Linked DNA regions of Homo sapiens. The protein of the gene in region 1 purifies or fractionates together with the protein of each later gene. This does not show direct contact. Each region holds a gene or a part of one and is shown in the gene's direction. Other genes may lie near its edges.

Region 1 (7,028 bases):
CAGCACCTTGGGAAGCTGAGGTGGGTGGATCATGAAGTCAGGAGTTTGAGGCCAGCCTGACCAACAGGGTGAAACCCTGTCTCTACTAAAAATACAAAAATTAGCCGAGCATGGTGGTGGACTCCTGTAATCCCAGCTACTCAGGAGGCTGAGGCAGGAGACTTGCTTGAACCTGGGAGGCAGAGGTTGCAGTGAGTGGAGATTGCGCCACTGCACTCCAGCCTGGGCAACAGAGTGAGACTCCATCTCAAATAAATAAATAAATATCTTTCTTTACTACATTTATTCATAGTTTTCTATCTGCAAACACGAAGAAGGCCATACTAACTCTATAAAGAAAAATTTCCAGTCCTTGAGTGTAACGAAATCAGGAACTTCTACTTAAGTCAAAAGGAAGCAAAGCAATAATAGAATACTGGGCATTGTAGTACCAGGGGTACAAAAACAGTATACCAAAACAGTTTTTGGAAAAATAAAAGTAGAGATAGTTAACAGTGTTATAGCTGACTTCCTGAATCTTCTAAAATGTCTCAATTCATAAAACACTTATCCTCACACTTCTCAGTGAGAATTCCCTAATGTGCTTCATACATTTGTATAAATGTATACAACCTCTTAGGGTTTTTTTTGTTTGTTTGTTTGTTTTTGTTTTGTTTGGTTTTTTGTAGATGGAGTTTCACTCTTGTCACCCAGGCTGGAGTGCAGTGGCACAATCTCAGCTCACTGCAACCTCCACCTCCTGGGATCAAGCGCTTCTCCTGCCTCGGCCTCCCAAGTAGCTGGGATTACAGGCACCCGCCACCATGCCTGGCTAATTTTTGTATTTTTTTTAGTAGAGTTGGGGTTTCACCATGTTGGCCAGGCTGGTCTTGAACTCTTGACCTCAGGTGATCCACCCGCCTCGGCCTCCCAAAGTGCTGGGATTACAGGCATAAGCCACTATTCCCAGCCAATATTTCTTATGATTAATTGGTACCAATGTAACATAACACTTTTGCTTGCTAAGCCCTTTTTTATGTATTTTGTGGTTCAGTTGTTAACTGAACTCATAACTCTTCCTCATAACCCTTATATGGAAGGTACTGTTATTTCCATTGTACAGTGAAAGAAACTGAGACATAAGGACATCATGTAACTTGCCCAAGGTCACACAGGTGGTATTGAGACCAGATTGATAAAGCTAATTGTTTTTATTTTTCTTTTTTGTAAACATAAGTGTTGGAGCTTGTTTGAATTAACAGTGTTAATTAAGTTGAAAAAAAATCAGTTTATTTCATTTGTACTGCTTGTTTTTTGCATTTTTATGGTTGTTTTAAATGTGTCCCTGCCACTAACTGCATCTGCTCTCGAGTGGTTATCTACCTATGTATCATGTTTCTTTCGAGGAATGACCAGTGATTTTACTAGCTTATAGTGCCTTGTACTGTTCAGTGCTTTGGTTACTAATAATAATTAGGTAAATTTTTATTGACTAGTTTCTGACAATATTGCTAGCTTTTCTGAAGCAGTACAATGTTCATGTATCGGTCACATTTGAGTCACAGTCCTTTCCGATGACATTTGGTATTTTGTGTTCAATTTGCCTGTGTTTCTCCAAGGTCTTATTTTATGCTTCTGTAATCTCAGTAGTTTTTCCTATCTACTGTAAAATTTAGTGTTCTTACATTTTACATTCTCACCCTCCATGTGTGTACACACACACAGTCTCCTTCCCACCAAATGTGCAAATTCAATGCTTTTTTTCCCCTCGATTGTCTGTATATTATTTGCCCTTGAGGAATGAATCCTAACTGCCCCACTGTTACATAGGCATTGAGAAAACCCTTGGAGAAAATTATCTGTGTGTGTGTTTAACTCTAGATATTTGTAGAGCAATTGAATTATTGGAAAAACTACAAAGGAGTGGAGAAGTACCACCACAGAAACTTCAGGCTTTGCAAAGAGTCCTTCAAAGTGAATTCTGCAATGCTGTGAGAGAGGTGAGTAAACATCATTAAAATTTACAAAAATTTGAGTTAATTAGGTCAGATAATACTCTAAATTTGGGTTCAACATTTCTTAAGAAAAACTTTAGAAAACATTAAAACCAGTCCCTCTCATTTTTGGAATTTCTGATAAAACCATTTTATAAAGATGCATAACTTTGCCTGAAATTTTAACTTCACAGAGAACTCAAGCATGGTATATTCTGAGATATAACTTTGGCTTTTACAGGTATATGAACATGTCTATGAGACTGTGGACATCAGTAGCAGTCCTGAAGTGAGAGCGAACGCTACTGCAAAGGTAAATTTTTTTGTTTTCCAAAAGTAAGAATTCTTCATAAATTAGAAGTTTAAAATATGGAGTTATTAAATTCATAATAAACTTACTTTGAAGACTAACATGTATCTTTCAAGCTACACCAAATTTCTCAAGTACTAAGAAATAAGACATTTGTTTCTATTGCCTTTACATAAATGCTGCATGATAAATAGCTTACATAAGCTATTTTATCATGCAGTTTAGATAATGCAATAGAAATGTACTTGCATACAATATGTATCATGCAATATATAATTGTGTTGTATATGTTATATATATGATACTATATAATATTCATTATACAAAATCTAATCAGAATTTTAAGATATGAATTACTATCCTCATCTTATTGATGAGGAAGCATGAGGTGATTTGCCGCAAACCACACAAATAGCATATGATAGAGCTGGGGTACTTCCCCGAGTTGATTTTTGCTTTCTTCTTTACATTATCTGCATTTCTGTGCCATTGTTTTCCTCAAATAATTTAGGTATTGACCTCACTATTCATGATAGGGGGTTTGAACAGGGTAATATCAGCAGTCGGTGACTTAAATTAATCATCAGCAGATAGTTTTTTATGGATAGTTACTGGCTCACAAAAGGAAATGGTGGATTCTTTGTTGAATACAAATACTTAAACATGTGGATATAGTTTATCAGTGTAGAAAAGACCAGAGAAACATGGTTTTAATTGCTGAGTTGTGTGAGTTTGATAGCCTACTGAATTTCTGAGCCTTAATTCCATTATCTGAAAAATGAGGCCTTTTTCAGAGCTTCGAAGATAACGGGTATTCAGTAAATCTTGATTTCTTCAAAGATAACGGGTGTTCAGTAAATCTTGATTTCTTTCCTCCTCCCCATTTTTGTGATCCATCACAAAAAAATGGTACTAGATAATTACCCTTTAAAGCAAAGTGAAACAAAATCTCAACTTTATAATTAGTTTGGATTAGTCTAAAGTTGAGCTTTAAAGAAGATACGGCTCTGTTTCATCTTCTGTGGGGATTTTTAGTTGTGTCTAGTTAACTAAAGCAACAAAACATTCAGATTGGCTATATGTACCTCTCTTTTTCTCAATATTGAGTTATTTCTTGACATCTTAGATATTTAGTATATAGTACAAATAGTACAGAAGCCAAAATGATTACATATAAGGGCAACTCCATGTTGATTATATAGGTAGGTTGTGTCCTGCACAAAGGCTCCTGAAGGAGTTGGGAGATCCAGATCTAAAGCCCAGGGCTGCTAGCATGCTGGGGAAGGGGTTTTCCTCCTTACCATGTACAATATCAGTCTGCCCAGTAAGTCTGCTTGCCAAGCCCTGCGCATACAGGACTGCACAAAAGAGTGGGCACTGAATGGGCTAGGAATGACCTAAAAAATCATAACAAAAAATCGTAACATTTCCTGCATAACTCGAAATTATTCATTTGTCGTCTCTAAAATACCTTCTGTTTAGCTTACCTTCTCAGAATCACCAGTGAATTTGTGAGCATTCAGACGTCAAAAATACGTGCTCAAAAGTAGTTTTTAAAAAGAGACAAAAGAGGCCAGGCGCAGTGGCTCACGCCTGTAATCCCAGCACTTTGGGAGGCCAAGGCGGGCGGATCACGAGGTCAGGAGATCGAGACCATCCTGGCTAATGTGGTGAAACCCCATCTCTACTAAAAAAAAATACAAAAAAATTAGCCGGGCGTGGTGGCAGGCGCCTGTAGTCTCAGCTACTCAGGAGGCTGAGGCAGGAGAATGGCGTGAAGCCAGGAGGTGGAGCTTGCAGTGAGCCAAGATCACGCCACTGCACTCCAGCCTGTGCGACAGAGCGAGACTCCATCTCGGGGGGAAACAAAAGATGAAAGAACTGAAGTAAATAAAAGTCATATTTTTAATATGTAAAACTTTCTTTCAGGCTACTGTTGCTGCATTTGCTGCCAGTGAAGGACATTCTCATCCTCGAGTTGTTGAGCTACCAAAAACAGAAGAGGGCCTTGGATTCAATATTATGGGAGGCAAAGAACAAAACTCTCCAATCTATATATCCCGAATAATTCCAGGTGGAATTGCTGATAGACATGGGGGCCTCAAACGTGGAGATCAACTCCTCTCTGTTAATGGAGTGGTAAGGATGAATTTTATTTCTATTTGTAGTGATCTGTTGTGACCACCTGGGGGCGTATTTGAGTAATAGGAGAAACCTAAGAAACTTGTGGTTTAGAAATGCCTTGAGGGAATCCTAGGCAGTACTATTAATACAGTGATCCTTTTTTTTAAGCACTATAAGTGTATTTTGCAGTGTAAATTAGCAGTGCTTAATGTCATTTTTATGACATAAGCTCTTTATTAAAGGCAATACATTAAATTAGAAGTCTACCCTCATTTTACTCTTATAAAATGCCAATTGCTTGATCTACTGAAATAATAAGGCATATAGATTAATATGCTAATTATTTGGAACTTAAAAGCCAGCTTTTAGACTATAAACAGAATATGATGTAAGAGAGGATTTCATATAGATTAAAATGGTAAGGCAGGATTATTTCTTAGTTTTGTAATGTTGGAATAATATAACATTAAAACTTTTCTTCATTATATATATTGTAAACATTTTTGCATTTTGAGTTACTTTCAAAACTTAGATATTAGTGTATGGTTGGTTGTTTTTTTTTCCCCTAGAGTGTTGAAGGAGAACATCATGAAAAAGCTGTAGAACTGCTGAAAGCCGCACAAGGAAAGGTTAAATTAGTGGTACGATACACACCCAAAGTCTTAGAAGAAATGGAGTCGCGCTTTGAAAAAATGAGATCAGCAAAACGCAGGCAACAGACCTAATACATTTCAAAACTTGATATTTCATTTTGCGTTTTAGCTAGAGAAGTTTTCCTTGTGACTTACTAATGGCTGCAATGCCAATGATTGTAAGAAAACAAACAAATTTATCATGAAATTCTCCTTGTCATTTTATAAATGCCTATTTTAACATCATTTATGGTTCCAGAGATGCATACACTTTTTTCTGACAAGAAAAAGTAAAAGGTGATGAGGGCAATTCTGTCCTACTGTTTTTACAGGCCTTTTTCAAATGCAGATTTTGTCATAAAGTTGTTATAGATTTTTTAAAATGCTTTTTTAATATTAAAATGTACTTTTACATTCTTAATCTTTTTTTAGAAAGGAAAAGTTTTCTTCATTTAGCTGCTGATTTAAAAGTAAAGTTCTCCAATTCTTTTTTTTTGCTTACTCTATTTTTTTTAACCTGTGAAATTTCTTTACAGTTTTCCAAGAAATTAAGCATAACAGTCTCATCTACGGCAGTTCATTACACTGTCAATGTTAACATCATTGCTGCATTTTGTACTTTGAACACACACATAATATATATAACCAGTGGTAAATCATGACTCAGTACAGTGCAAGTTTTTTCACTTTTACTTAAACATAATATATAATGGATATTCATTTATACTGATTTATGAAAGTAAGTTTTTAAACACTGAAACAATCATTGCTAAAATACATATTCTTAATATTTGAGCATTGAGGCAAGAGGATGTAATTGATAGCATTACTTATTACATCCCTATTTATGTTCAACCGTACATCAAATTATAAATGCAAAACAGGTTCAGATTTCATCTTTTGTGATTTCTTTTAAATACTATTCATTTTTATTTAAATGCACAGTATTTCCCCTATATTTTAGTCCTTCCATTCCTAGAGACAAACCAGTTATTTGGTGGTGGGAAGTAGCTGAAGCAAAGAAGGAAAAGTAATACCTTTAACCTCACTAGCTTCAAGAGTAGACATTCTTACTAGCTCAATTTAAATAATTGATTTTAAATAGGAAGAAAAGAGGATATATTTAAGATACATAGAAATTATGATGTGAAGTATTCATGAGAATCTGTAGATTCCATCAAAATAAGTAGGAACTCATACTAAAATTGTTGGATTTAAAGAGGCAACTTTTGTTTATGATTCAAATATGGGAATTTGAGAAATATTTCATTTGTCCACTGGATGTCACTATTTTACTAAAAGGCAGCTATTAGTGTGGGACTGTGACTGAGGTCTTAAAGACTGAAAGAGTTGGGGTTCATTTTCTGTTACAACTTACAGGAACATTTGTACTTTAAGAAAAATTTAAGTGACAAATGTTAGAAGATGATGGATTGAAAAATATAAGTAATTTGGCATATTGACCCTATATAAAAAAGTGGGCATTTTGTAACATTCCTTCAGGAAGAATAGAATTGTATGCTTTTTTCTGCATGTTTGTGATCACTGTGAGTCTCAGATGATTATTCCAGTTTTCAATGATTTTTCAAAATAAAAGTCAATCAGCATTGTTATTTATCATTAAGGTATTGAACACTGGATTGCATGGTTGAATGTGTCTTTAATCCACTACAAAATGTGCTTGTTATTGATAGGATCATGTTGTTAAATTGTAAATTTTCAAAATTAATTGATGTTTTAAAAATGTTGAGACCAAAGTAGTATAGAAGTATGGACTTAATTTAATTGTAAAATTATTAGAGGTATTTGTTGTAGAGCTTTATATATTAAAGAGAGGTATTGGTGCATATAAAAACAGTAATATTATTGTTATGCTTGTATTCTTGCATTTCAGGGTAAGTAAACCCTGAAGAAATCTTATTTTAGTATAGCTACAGCTGCAGTAGCTTTTAAGTATGTATCAACATTTCATTATAAATTATAGCTTCC
Region 2 (7,028 bases), on another chromosome or scaffold:
ACTTGAAGCAATAACTTGATTTTTTTTTTTTTTTTTTTGGTTTTGTCTTGTCTTGAACTCCTGGCCTCAAGTGATCTTCCTGCCTCAGCCTCCCAAAGTGCTGAGATTATAGGCGTGAGCCACAATGCTCATCCTCAAGGAGGTGTTAATATGATAGATTTAAACTTAGATAAAATTTTTATAGATTTTAAAAATATTTTTTAGTTGGTACTGTGTACTGTTGAATTTTCAAACCCCGTGTAATAACATTACATGAGGCTAATCTGTTATCTGTTAGAGTGTATGAAAGAAGTGTTAATTTTTTTTTCCCTTTGGTTTTTCAGGTTCTTTATAGAGTTGGAAGCAAGACATCAGAATAATATCTTCATAGATGACATAAGTGACATTGTGGAAAAACACACAGCATCCACATTTGACCCATATGTGAAATACTGCACAAATGAAGTCTACCAACAACGAACACTACAAAAATTGTTGTAAGCAATGTCGAATGCTACAGTTTTAATCATCTAACCTAGTTTTAATTAGGCTACATTGACTGAAATTAATTGATCTTTTGAATTATATTTAGAAATGCCTCCTGATAGGCTATTTCCCAGAGGAGAAATGTTTAAGAGCATTACTTTTAGGGTGAGGGTGTTTAAGTAGAAAAATCTAGTGTGTAGAGAATTTTCTCTCTTACGAAATTATAGCTTGTTATTGATGTCCTTGTTTAGTGTTTCGTTGTTTTTAATTGTTGCAGGAAACAGAGGTGGTCCTCACTCTAAACCCGCAGTTTTCTAAGCTTTTTACTGGCAATTAAGTGGTTTTCCTGAGGCTTAGAGGGGATTCTTGAGTTGATTGAGCTAAAAGCTAAGATTCAGAGTTTTCTCTACTATTCTGATCTCCCTCCATTCAATTGACAACGATAATAAATTGTTCATAAAAATTGCTGATTATTCCCCCCACTTGGGTAGTTAGAGTTGAAGAGAGGAGGGAAGTTCTGAAGGAAAGCAGTAGAAAAAAGTAATGTTCTTAAAGATTTCAGTTATGCAGCAAAAGAGTTAAGCATTAGATTTCCTGCCACATCTTTTCTTTTTGTCCTTTTTAGGTTACTGAGAGTTTTGATGTGATGCATATGCCATCTGTGTCCTTAAAAGAGTCACCAATTGTTCAGTAATGCCTATATGTATTTTAAAGAGTCCTGTTTATCACAAGTAGCTGTTTTACAGCACAGTTGTGCACTGCTGTAAACCCAGTTTGGGAGCTTAATGGCTGTTATCGTTCTCACCCCCTCCTGTGAGTTGTGGCATTTATGACCACGGCATGGAGCTTCGGTCAACTTCTGTGCAATATGTGAGACCCCTATGGAGGAGTAGGGGTTGAGGATGACTAACTTATGGCTGCTTGGAGAAATAGTCAAAGCCTCTAAGCTGATGAGAAGGGCTGATGATGGCCCCCTTTTTCCTCCACATCTTCATGACATTTTCATATAGCCAGGGTGGAAAACACACAGCTGCTAACCCCAATGAGATTTTTAGTATAAAGCAGGGTTTGTTCGCACAATTGACATTTTGGACTGGATAAGTCTTTGTGGTGGGCTGTCCTATGCATTTTAAGATGCTTAAGGGCATCCCTGGCTTCCATCTGCTAGATGCCAAAAATCTCCCCAGACATTGCAGAAGGTCCCCTGAGGGTAAAACCACACCCATCACTTCCTCACTCCACCACGCCCTGGTGGGAACCGCTGCTATAGGAACAGAGGTTCTCTGTAACTGTTAGAGAATGCAAGTTCATGTCTGAAAACAAAGCCTTGAATTAGAGATAAATTTGGGTTTCATTTTGTTTTGCAGGATTTAAAAAATGTCACTAGGTACTGCTATACATCATGTGACTCTTAAAGGTTTTATCTAAATTAGCTTAATGATAACATCATCAGCACTTTCACGTGGCAATTAGTAGTGTTTTCAGGGGATTTGTTGCAGTTGATGTGATTTTTTTTTTTTTTTTTTTTTGAGATGGAGTCTCACTCTGTCACCCAGGCTGGAGTGCAGTGGCGCAATCTTGGGTCACTGCAACTTCTGCATCCCAGGTTCAAGCGATTCTCCTGCCTCAGCCTCCCGTGTAGCTGGGACTACAAGTGCATGCCACCACACCCAGTTAATTTTTTGTATTTTTAGTAGAGACTGGGTTTCACCGTATTAGCCAGGATGGTCTTGATCTCCTGACCTCGTGATCCACCTGTCTCTGCCTCCCAAAGTGCTGGGATTACACGCGTAAGCCACTGCGCCCAGCCCGCAGTTTATGTGAATTTAAGGTTAGAACAGTGGCTTTCAATTCTAGCTGCATGTTAGAAATGCCTTGGGGCCTGAAAATGAGCAAATGTACACTGTCCAGAGTCCATCCCAGACTATTTAATCAGAACCTTTGGAAGGTGAGGGAGGGGACTGGGACCTGAGTTATTTAAATATACAACTAATTTAGAGGTTTTTGTTTTTTTTTTTTAACTTTCTAAAAATCTTGTCAAAGCTATCAGTAAAAGGAAACTTAAAACTTCTCAATTAGAGAAAATGGAAATGAATTGTTTCTGTATAATTTCTTTTCATTTGCTATTCTGGCATTCTCCCCCTCCCTGCTTTTAGTAGCAGCCTTGAACAAGATTATTTAATTTTCAAAATAACATTTTTTTTAAAAAAAATGACTGCTATTGTCACTATCCTGCTTCCTTCTCCCTTCATGGGAGTACAATATCCATCTACCTCCTACCCTCCTTGCCTTGGAAAGTGGCAGTGGAACTCTACAGAGCTCCTCATGGGATGAAGTGAGGTAAGAGAGTGAGAAATGGGGGGACAAGAGTGTCAGATTTAACATTAGAAAACTTGGGTTTGAGGCCAGGCACAGTGGCTCACGCCTGTAATCCCACCACTTTGGGAGGCCGAGGCAGGTGGATTACTTGAGGCCAGGAGTTCGAGACTACCCTGGCCAACATGAAACCTTTTCTCTACTAAAGATACAAAAATTAGCTGGGCGTCATGGCACACACCTGTAATCCCAGTTACTTGTGAGGCTGAGGCATAGAATTGCTTGAACCTGGGAGGCAGAGGCTGCAGTGAGCCGAGATTGTGCCATTGCACTCCAGCCTAGGTGATAGAGCAAGACTCCATCTCAAAACAAACAAACAAACAAACAAACCTGGGTTTGACTTCTGTCTTTGGCAGTTACTAAGTCATATTTACTTGGTGAGGTAGGGACCTTTCTGCATTCCATTTTCTTACTGGAATCCCTATCTGGCCTTCCTTAAAAGTTACGTAGGTGGTTCCACATGAAAGAATGTATGTCACAGTATCTCGCTAAGTTTCATTAAAATGTTATAGCAGCATTAATACTTTTCTTGCATTAACAGGAGAAAAAGAGGAATATTTCGACTGATGTGATGAAAAGGTTTTCTGTCTCAGAAAGAGGATCTTTGTGGCCTAAAGCCTCTGAAGTCCAGTCTAACTGTTAATTTCTTATGCCATTGTCTAGGGCTGGAGAAGTGGCTTAAAACATATTATTTATGATCTTATTAATGATATATGTTTATAGATGATCGGATATAAAAGACCTAGTCTGTATACTGATTTATGACCCATATATTCACCATTATGATACCACAGCTTCTTCATTTGCTTACCTTCCACTTGTATAAATTTCTAGCTCCTACATGTTTTGCCTTATTGTTAATACTGTTATGTGAAATCCACATCTTATTATATTCAGCCTTGAATATAAAAGGCAGACAAGCCATTCGTATTTGCCAGTGTAATTATGTGCTTATGATATTTTCATACAGTTTAAAATAGTTGATGCTATATGGATTTATCACAGTATTTTGTAATACATTTTTACTTGCTGCTTAATTTGAGGAGGAAATATTTTGAAGTTTCTCTTTTCTTTGTTTTCCCTCAGAGCTACCAATCCATCCTTTAAGGAAGTATTGTCAAGGATTGAGTCCCATGAAGACTGTAGGAACTTACCCATGATCTCTTTTCTCATTCTCCCCATGCAGAGGGTGACCCGCCTTCCCCTGCTGATGGATGTAAGACATGACGGTGGCTTTTTCCTCTGTGGATAGCTGTGCTTCTCTAAATCTGATTTAGAAAATTATTATTATTCCACTTAAATTGATGCATATTTAAAGGTCTAAAAATCCCCCAATTAAGTGAGAAGGTGTTGTTTGTTCAGAAAGTCTCACCTGTATCTGATATCTCTGGAAATTATCTTTCATTTAGGCTTCTATGGTCATTCTGAAGAAATTGGATCTCATCACCCACTTACTCAGCATTTTTTGAAATAGGAAGAGTTGTGGCTTCTTTATGTCAGGAGGCCTGGATTCCAATTCTAGCTAAGCCATTAGGCATGTGACCTTGAGCAACTCAGTCTCTTTGGGCCTAAGATTCCTCAGACTGATCACTGAGATCCCTTCATCTATAATGTTCCAAGGTGCCCTGGGCCTTCCATTTCATACAGGAATGAGAGTCTCTTCAGCATGACAAGGCATAGTACTGCCTGTATTATGCATTGTGCGAAGTGAGTGAGGAAAGCCCAGCTTCCTTCTTGTGTTAGGCAGCATTCATGAGGAAAGCAAGTGTTTTTGACTTTGAATCACGGCAAGACATGACTGGGAAAAGTGAGTAGAGTCTGCCTAGTAGTACGTGCAGCTGGAAAGACAGGTAGGCTATGGGCAGGAGAGCCTGCCACTGGCTGCACTGGAGCTGCTGGGGCAGCAAAAGAGAAAAGTGGGGTGGCTCGACACAGGTGCCATTCTAGCAGTGGATCACAGAGTGTCTTTTTGATCTAATTAGAAAATATTTTGTTATGATTTTCCTACTTTAAAATTGGATCATAATGTTGATATAAGGTCAACTTTTTACATACCTGATTTTGACTAATCAAAACAAAGTAAAATATATATTAAAAATTATGATTAAGGTTACAAAGTAAATTTCACATTCTGTATCCCATTGTAAATTCTAAAATACATTCTTTAAAAATGCTGAAATTTTGAAATGTGTAAAAGCATGGAATCATGAGCATTTAGCTGACTGCTGCAGTTTTGGAGACGTTTTGTCAGGTATTTCAGGATTCATAGCACCTTGTGCTCCTCAAGTTTACTTCGATCTACTGCCTTTACACCTTCTCCACCCATCACCTGTAATTCAGGAACTTCCCCCCTGTGTACATATTGGGAAGCTTGCAGTTTTGAACATTTCACTTTCTGATTTTTTTTTGAGATCAGTATTTATCATGTTTAAAGATAGAATGTGGCTAAGTTATCAGAATCGAATTTTTGCTTAAGAAGGAAACTTTGGTCCATATAAGGAAGTATTATTTCAAACATGACTATTTTTTTAAGCAAGAAGTGAATGCCTTGTAAATACAACATTTCTTGTAATATTAGACTTTTGAATTTTCAGGGTTTTCTTCTTCTGAAAATGCATTTTATTCCTCTTTGAGAATTGAAATAAAAGAACAAAAATAAATAAAATGCATTTTAAACATGTTTTCCAGATTTTATATATGCTGTGATGGCCAAGCCTTTTATATCCTCTTTAAATTTGAGAAAATTACTTGTATGGAATGGGACTCTAAAATCTAACACATTATGTTATACAGTGTTGGAGATTCATGCCATGATTGCTCAGTAGGCTTTAAACTTTTTTTAAGCCACAGACCCCCCCTTGAGATTCTGAGTAAAGCTATAGCTTTTCTTCCCAGAGAATATGTGTATGCACAAAATTTTACATAAAATATCAATATATGGAATCCAGCTAAGGATGCCTGCTCTCAGGGACATAAACCAGTATTTTTCATGCTGCTTTCATACCCATTAGTGGGCCATAAAACTGATTTTTGAATTATGAGCATATGTACGTTGCTCATAAAGTGGTTAAATATTGTTTCATAAAATCCTGGTTCATTTATGTGTGCATGTGTGCTGGTTGCAGTGTAAAAGTATTTCTTACAGTGAGTCATAGTCAAAAAATATAAGAACCTCCACAGATGGTGCACTCTGTGTTTCTCACATAGCAGATAGTTAAAAATCTTGATGCCTGACTTTCAGATGGCTTGGCTTGGTGCTTCTGTACATTTAAGGGACCAGTGACTTGCTAGTAGCCAACTACTTTCTACCTCTGCCTGATGCCTGTTGCTCTAATCTGTTTCTCATGTGTGGAAATCTGGCCATTTAGGCAGAATGTAAATGTATTTAAAATAGTGTCTCTTCAATTTTACCTCATTTGGAAATTCAGTTAAGCTTGTTCATTAAAATAAACACTTTCAGTAATTAAAGTGGTTCCCTGGGCTTTGAATGTGTGTGTATAGCTTTAAAGTTATATGTAATTAAATTTACCGTGAATTGACCCTGTTTGACCTGATTTTCCTATCACAAATGAAATTTCTCAGTATAAATATATCAACAGAAAACCTAGCAGGCTTTTTTTCCTTTGCTGGTTTTTTTGGGTTTTTTTTTGACTGTTTTTTCTTTGAGATGCTGTCACCCAGGAGTGCAATGGTGCGATCTCGGCTCGCTGCAACCTCCACCTCCCAGGCTCAAGTGACCCTCCCACCTTAGCCTCCTGAGTAGCTGGGACCACAGGTGCACACCACCATGCCTGGCTAATTTTCTTTTAGTATTTTTGTAGAGATGGGGTTTTTCCATATTGCCCTGGCTCCTGGACTCAAGTATTCTGCCTGCCTTGGCTTTCCAAAGTGCTGGGATTACAGACATGAGCCACTGTGCCTGGCTGTTCTTTTTATTCAAAATGTATCATCTATAAATATAATTGCCTCTAATAATAATGATTATAATGGTGATAATTAAAGTAACTCTTATTTATTGAGGGCATACCCTATGCCAGGCACTAATAAAGAACTTTACATAAATTATCATTAACACTTCTAACAACCTTGTGATGTAGCTGGCATCACCCCAGTTTTACAGATGAGGAAAGAGAGGCTTATAAAGATAGAGTTAGTGACTTGCTCAAGATTTGATAACTAGTAAGGGC
Region 3 (7,028 bases), on another chromosome or scaffold:
TTAAACTACCTTGCTGCTGTCTTCAATGCTAGTTACATAAGATCTATATTTTTTGAATGACTACTATGTATAAACCATCTAGATAGGCAAGAGGTGGTCCCAGTCTTCAAGGGGCTTGAAATCTGGCAGGCAAGGCAAGACAGGTGTCTGTTAATAGTAACTAGAATATGGCAGAATACCTGCTGGGCTCTAGAGGAGATGGCATTGGTGCTGGAGGTCAGAGGGGTGTGGAAGGTTTGGGTTGTTGTGGGAAGGAAAGAGAGACCACATGGGGGCATGTGTGCAGTGCATGTGTTGAAAGGCTGCTGGAGGGCCAGGCAGAGCAAGGTGGTATCCACCCAGGTAGTGCCACACCTTCCTTCCCTCATGCAGTTCTGCTGAAGGAATGACTGTGGGATTGAACATTTCTCCAAGTCTTTTCCCAGGATGTGGGCCAGGAGAAAAGGAATGAAAGGAATGGCCACCATGAAGGGGTCCTCTTCATACCCTCCTTCCTGTAGCAAGGGCCTGCAGCAGCCCAGAAGGACAGTCTGTTATCAGTCAAGAGGCTGCTGAATCCTTTCAAATGATGTTTTCTAAGCATATAGGAAATGCACGTGATATTAGTCAAAGGATACAAAGTTGCATTTATAGTATGATCTCAGTTTTATATGTGTGTATACAAAAATACTAGATAGATATAAATCAAAAGATAGTGTTATTTCTGAGTGACATATTATGGGTTACTCTTCTTTTCTTCTAGATTTTCCAAAATCTGTAAAATTAGCATGTATTACCTTTATTTCTTGTTTTTAAACAAATCAAGGCAATTTCTTTTTAAAGGATACCAGCCCCAGTCTTCCCTTCCCACATCAAAAATCCACACACACTCACACATGCCTTCTGAGGTCTCCTGGCTCTTTAGGGAAAGCAGAGGAAGGAAAACGTTCTTCTAACACAGAGCCTGACTTAGGGAAATGGAGCTTTGAAACTGAAAGGGCTAAGAGGGTTTAGGGTCCCAAACTTGACCTACCTCTTCAGGAACTACCAGGCTCTGGGGCCACATGCATTCAGGCCCTCCAGCAAGAGAAACTTCTTGTGGGATCTGCTACAAAGAAACTGCAGCTCCATGAAAGTAATTGCAAGCTTTGCTTTCTTTTTTTTTTTTTTTTCCTTTTTTCTGTGAATAGCTTAACTCAGGCCTGGGACAGTTGATCTTGAAAGAAGAGATGGAGAAAGAGAGCCGGGAAAGGTCATCTCTGTTAGCCAGTCGCTACGATTCTCCCATCAACTCAGGTAAGCAGCAAACCCCCAACCTTCCCTGATTCGAGAGCCAGCCACCTGCTTGTAAGGCACCTGCCTTGACTGTTCACTTGTGGTGGAACCTACAGAGTATTCCACGGGAAAGGAAGTGTGGGAAACCCACTCCATGTCAAATGAGCTCATAAGCATGTCATGGGTCTTCCATAAATGTGTGTTTCCTTTCTTCTGGAAATGGGTGAACCCTTGGAGGTTCTCAAAATCCATGAAGGCCAATCCCCATATACTAGGTTTGTCTTCTAGAACACTCATCTCCAAGGGAAGCAGCAAAAGGAAATCCTCTAAAAAACATGATGCTTTTCTTCTTCTTCTTTTTTTTTTTTTTTTTTTTTAGATAACATGAATAAGACATTTTCTAAGCATTATGATTTTACATTAATATCTTCAATAGAGGCCGGGTGCGGTGGCTCATGCCTGTAATCCCAGCACTTTGGGAGGCCAAGGCAGGCGGATCACCTGAGGTCAGGAGTTTGAGACCAGCCTGGTCAACGTGGCGAAACCCCATCTATACTAAAAATACAGACATTAGCCAGGCGTGGTGGTGGGCTCCTGTAATCCCAGCTACTCGGGAGGCTGAGGCAGGAGAATCACTTGAACCTGGGAGGTGGAGGTTGCAGTGAGCTGAGATCACACCATTGCACTCCAGCCTGGGCGACAAGAGTGAAACTCCATCTCAAAAAAAAAAAGAAAAAAAATCTTCAATACAAGAACTGAGGATGAACAGTGTTTTTGATACTTTTGAAGAAGATGACTTATACACTGGGCTGAAATAGCCTATCAGTGTATTTTCCCCTGTATCTATTTGTCATAAGCCAATTCTCTCTTAAACCACAAGATTTCTTCTCTCATATTCTGAGCTAGAGCATAATTTTCTCCTCTAAGAGTTCCTTTAAAAATGCATTTAGTGGGGAGACCAAGGCGGGCAGATCACAAGGTCAGGAGATCGAGACCATCCTGGCTAACACAGTGAAACCCCGTCTCTACTAAAAAATACAAAAATCAGCCAGGTGTGGTGGCGGGCTCCTGCAGTCCCGGCTACTCGGGAGGCTGAGGCAGGAGAATGGCGTGAACCCAGAAAGCTGAGCTTACATTGAGCCAAGATTGCGCCACTGCACTCCAGCCTGGGTGAGAGTGAGACTCTGTCTCAAAAAAAAAAAATGCATTTAATGTTCACTCCATGCAAGCATTTTTGCTAAACATTTTATTTAATGTTCACAACATGCCAGTGAAGTAGATGTGGTTGTTATTAGCAACTGCAGCATTTTCATCTCTATTTTAGAAATCAGGAGGCTGGTATAGAAATTGAGTTAACATACCCAGCGTGATACGCCAATAACTAGCAAGACTAGGATTTAGAAGTCCACATATTATAACCCCGGAGCCCACACCCTTACCTGGAATTCCCGCTACCCTTCATAGATGCCTCACTGGCATTGATCTTGGATTCGGTGGTTTACAAATCTTTAGAGTTCCTTGGAATTCTGAGATTCTGCTCTATAAGAATGTATAACATTGTACCTGCATAGATGAAGAAATGAGGACTTCAGAAAGATTAAACACCATGTCCGGAGATACAGAGGTATTAAGTTGCAGAACCAGAATTCAAGCCCAGGGCTGCTCCCTCTCAAGCCCAGCAGCTTATCAGGCTTCCATATCATTGACAGATACCCTGTATCAGGCCTCCCAGGAGGCCAGCTGTAGATGGCTGGTAGATCTTGATAACATACAGGGTTGGCTTCCAGTTCAGTTACTGCTGCCTTATCAACTGGGGCATGGGCTAATGTATTCAGATATCCCTGATTTACATCCTTGCTCAGCTGTTTAGAAGCTTAGTAACTGTTGGCAGGATATTTTTCTTAGCCCCTATTTCTCCTTCTGTAATATGGAACTAATAATCATAGTGTTATTAGGGTTATATTGAAGATTCAAAGAAATAAAGCATGCTGAACACTTAGCTCCATGCCAGAGCTATAGGAAGCACAGCCAGCTTCAGCCCCCACTCAACCGCGTGGACTTGACTTTCCCTTCCCTCCTCAGTCATATCACTGTCCACCCACTCCTTGCAAATATGATGGCATATTTTTGAACATTTGAGCCCAATATGATTTGAATTTTTTTGGTATTTCTATCCTGTGAGGTAGAAGATACTGCCAATTTCATTAAAGGATTGGACCTTCTGATTTCCTAACAATTGGTTTTTTACTTTTTTCTTACTCAGCTTCACATATTCCATCATCTAAAACTGCATCTCTCCCTGGCTATGGAAGAAATGGGCTTCACCGGGTAAGATTTCTCCCCGATTCATTGTTTCTGCCTTTACTCCCACCTCGGCCCTGGTTGAAGTATTGACACATTGCCTGAATACGTCTGACTCTTGATCTCAGTGTTGGAACATAATGAAAATTTTAACCTCCCTGGTTGCCTAGTAAATTAATTTGAGTTACAGGCAAAATAAAATGTTTCTATTGAGAGAAGAAGAAATTAACTTTAGATAAAAGAATGGCTTGTGTATGATTATGGGAAAACTAAATTGCAAAACTGTATGGCAAATATTTTTTACAATGAAACAAAAAGTAATTACTTGAACCATTATCTTTGCTGTAAAAAGATATAAGAATGTGTGTTATAACCATCCTCCTCACAAAAGATGGAACAAATACAATTATGTAACTATGTAGGACAATGCATTTTTATTTATCAGCAAGAGATCCCTGCTTACCAAGAGCCTGCTGAGTGGTGGCATTAGTACACTAAAAAAGACAAAGAGATGGCATAGCAGTAGAAGAATCATAGGGAAAAAAAAAATGAAGGTCTGACATTTAGCTTGGGAAGAATTCCTAGGATTTTGTAAACTCTTTCTTCCTTTTCACCTGACTCCAAAACGATCACTATGGAGATTTCCTAATAATTGTTTTTCCTCATTTCAGCCTGTTTCTACCGACTTCGCTCAGTATAACAGCTATGGGGATGTCAGCGGGGGAGTGCGAGGTGAGGCTCCCATGGCCAGGCTGAGCATGGCCACGTCTTCCCTCGAGGCTGAGGTTCATGAGAGTCAAGTATACTGGCTGTGTTCATGCTGTATTGTATCCTTAGAGTAGGATCACATCTGTCTTCTGTGAGCTAATAGGGCAATTATTTACAAAATTTCAAAGAATATCTAATGAAATCAAACTGTAAGAAGTGAGTTTGTGAGAATTTATTCATTGCTCATACTATGTGCTGAGCACTCTATCAGATACCTAGAGGCCAGGCATGGTGGCTCATGCCTGCAATCCCAACACTTTGGGAGGCTGAGGCGGAAGGATTACTTGAAGCCAGGAGTTCTAGACTAGGTTGGGCAACAAAGTGGGCCTGTCTCTACCAACAACAACAAAAACAACAACAACAAATTATAATAATTAGCTGGTGGCACATGCCTGTAGTCCCAGCTACTTGGGAGGCTGAGGCAGGAGAATTGCTTAAGCCCAGGAGTTCAAGGCTGCAGTGAGCTATGTTCATGCCACTGCACTCCAGCCTGGGTGACGGAGCAAGACTGTCTCTTAAAAAAAAAAAAAGTAACTGGAGGTACAACAATAAGTGAGACATGGCCCCTGCCCTCAAAATGCATATGGCAGAAAGAAGGTCTGTGTGATGAACATTGGGATCAGAGATGCAGAGAAGGAAGCAGTAAGTACCTTTAGGTTGTCAGCGAAAGCTTCCAGGGGAAAATGTTTTAACTGTTAACTAACACTGGACCAGGCATTTCTTGGCTTCAGGGAGGCTGATGGGATAACATGTGCAGAGTCTGGGAGCAGAAAAAGAACATGGTTTATAGGGCGAATATGTTGGGAATTTCAATATAATATAGTCTGTGAATGGTTCCTTGCTTTTCCATGGTCTTTCCCTTATGATATTTTCTTTTCCTTTCCTTTTCAGATTACCAGGTATGGAACACTTTGTCTTTCTTGAATTGGCCACACCGATAGAACAGCCATGTTCCAACCCAGACTGCTGGCTCCAAGGCAACAGTTTCTGTTGAGAAGATGCTTGTTGTGGTTGATCTCTCTAGTCATTACTCTATAGCCGTGAAGAGCAGACATGCCTGGTGCCTGGGTCAAGCTGTCCCTGCAGGCCTTGGGGACACTGCATGAACCAGGCCAGGTGTAGGGGGTCTCTCTTGCTTTGGCCTTGGAGAGTCCTCTCTGGGGTGGAAGTGGACCAGCATCAAGGGTCTGCTCATATACAGTTTTTCTTCTTTTAATTATAATCTCTCAGTACTTTAGGCCACCCTTTTCCTGCGCGTTCTCAAATGAAAAGACACTGATGTCTTAGCCAATAGGAGAGAGCAGTTTGCCCTCATGACATTCCTTTCTCACTAGAACCTCAATCTTGTTAAAAAAAGAAAGAAAGAAATGTGATGGAGAATAAGAAAAGAAGAAAAATGCATAGAAAATCATGATTAAAGATAAGAAACTAACAATAATAGACTTGGGCATCTTTTAAATGTACTATATGCTTTCATTCATGGAGCCTAATTCAGGAATTTGTCCATAACCATCAAGCCAAGATCTCTCCCCAACTTGATTGCAAAAGAGCTGTATTCCTGTTCCTATACAGCAAGGATCTCATTTTGAAAAATACATGGTCATTTAGATGACACAAATAAAATAGTGGTTAGGATTGGAGACCCAACAGGGAATTGGGAGCCCAAGAGTACTCCCTTCAGTTTCCTAGACTATTTCATGCCTCACCTGGAACTGGCATTTCTGTTGCAGACACTCCCAGATGGCCACATGCCTGCAATGAGAATGGACCGAGGAGTGTCTATGCCCAACATGTTGGAACCAAAGGCAAGTGCAGCTGTTCTTTTTCCTCTCATATGGGAATGGCGTAACCCTAAACAGATTTGATGTTCTATCTTTTCATCATTCTCAAAGTGTTGTAGGCTGGTGTGTTCAGGTGAGCCATGTCATGAATATGCACCTTGCCATTCTGCTGTTTTGCCCACATCAGGTCAGCAGGTTAAACCCTTACTGGGCATGATGCTGTGTGTTTACAGTGAGGTGCCAGTCCCTCTCTGCCTATGACCAAGGTATTCCCTTGGCCTCTGCCATGTGCATTACAGAGCATATCCGGTGCTGAGTGGAGTGGCTGCAGACTCACCATGTAGGTGAGGCAACCCTGTTTCACCATTGAAAGCCCTGCATTTCAAGAACCTCAGTCCTGGGTACACTGGGGTGACTGGCCACCCTAGCTCCAGAGCACCCTGTACCTTCAGAGTTGTCCAAGGGCTCATGCTCCCTGGTGACCATAACCAGGGCTTATTTCAATATGGCAGTTGCCAGAGCACTGCTTCTGGGCCTGCCTGGCCCCATAGATTCATGAGCTAGTCATGGGACAAGATTGTTAACCCCAGCACAAATGCACCCTGCCCTATAACAGCATCCTATAAAAGGTAACACATTGGCTGGGCACAGTGGCTTACGCCTGTAATCCAAGCACTTTGGAAGGCCAAGGCGGGTAGATGGCTTGAGTTCAGGAATTTAAGACCAGCCTGAGCAACATGGCAAAATCCCATCTCTACTAAAACTTAAAAAAAATTGCTTGGCATGACGACATGTGCCTATAGTCCCAGCTACTCGGGAGGGTAAGATAGGAGGGTCACCTGGGCCTGATAGGTTGAGGCTACAGTGAGCTGTGATCACACCACTGCATCCAGCCTGGGCAACAGAGCAAGCCCTGTCTACAAA

The links.
Region 2: the proteins of LIN7C (region 1) and ARHGEF26 purify together in Homo sapiens (affinity purification with mass spectrometry; 5 studies listed by BioGRID and IntAct, with this or other methods). This does not show direct contact.
Region 3: the proteins of LIN7C (region 1) and ABLIM1 purify together in Homo sapiens (affinity purification with mass spectrometry; 4 studies listed by BioGRID and IntAct, with this or other methods). This does not show direct contact.

The regions. Positions count from the first base shown.
Region 1 is NC_000011.10:27,496,753-27,503,780, reverse strand, and holds part of LIN7C (protein lin-7 homolog C), read left to right. Parts: intron 1-1,860; coding exon 1,861-1,979; intron 1,980-2,214; coding exon 2,215-2,286; intron 2,287-4,212; coding exon 4,213-4,422; intron 4,423-4,976; coding exon 4,977-5,132; 3' UTR 5,133-7,028. UniProt on the Homo sapiens protein: Plays a role in establishing and maintaining the asymmetric distribution of channels and receptors at the plasma membrane of polarized cells.
Region 2 is NC_000003.12:154,187,362-154,194,389, forward strand, and holds part of ARHGEF26 (rho guanine nucleotide exchange factor 26), read left to right. Parts: intron 1-323; coding exon 324-476; intron 477-3,927; coding exon 3,928-4,057; intron 4,058-7,028. UniProt on the Homo sapiens protein: Activates RhoG GTPase by promoting the exchange of GDP by GTP. Required for the formation of membrane ruffles during macropinocytosis. Required for the formation of cup-like structures during trans-endothelial migration of leukocytes.
Region 3 is NC_000010.11:114,438,276-114,445,303, reverse strand, and holds part of ABLIM1 (actin-binding LIM protein 1), read left to right. Parts: intron 1-1,169; coding exon 1,170-1,275; intron 1,276-3,517; coding exon 3,518-3,582; intron 3,583-4,226; coding exon 4,227-4,287; intron 4,288-5,214; coding exon 5,215-5,222; intron 5,223-6,053; coding exon 6,054-6,128; intron 6,129-7,028. UniProt on the Homo sapiens protein: May act as scaffold protein. May play a role in the development of the retina. Has been suggested to play a role in axon guidance.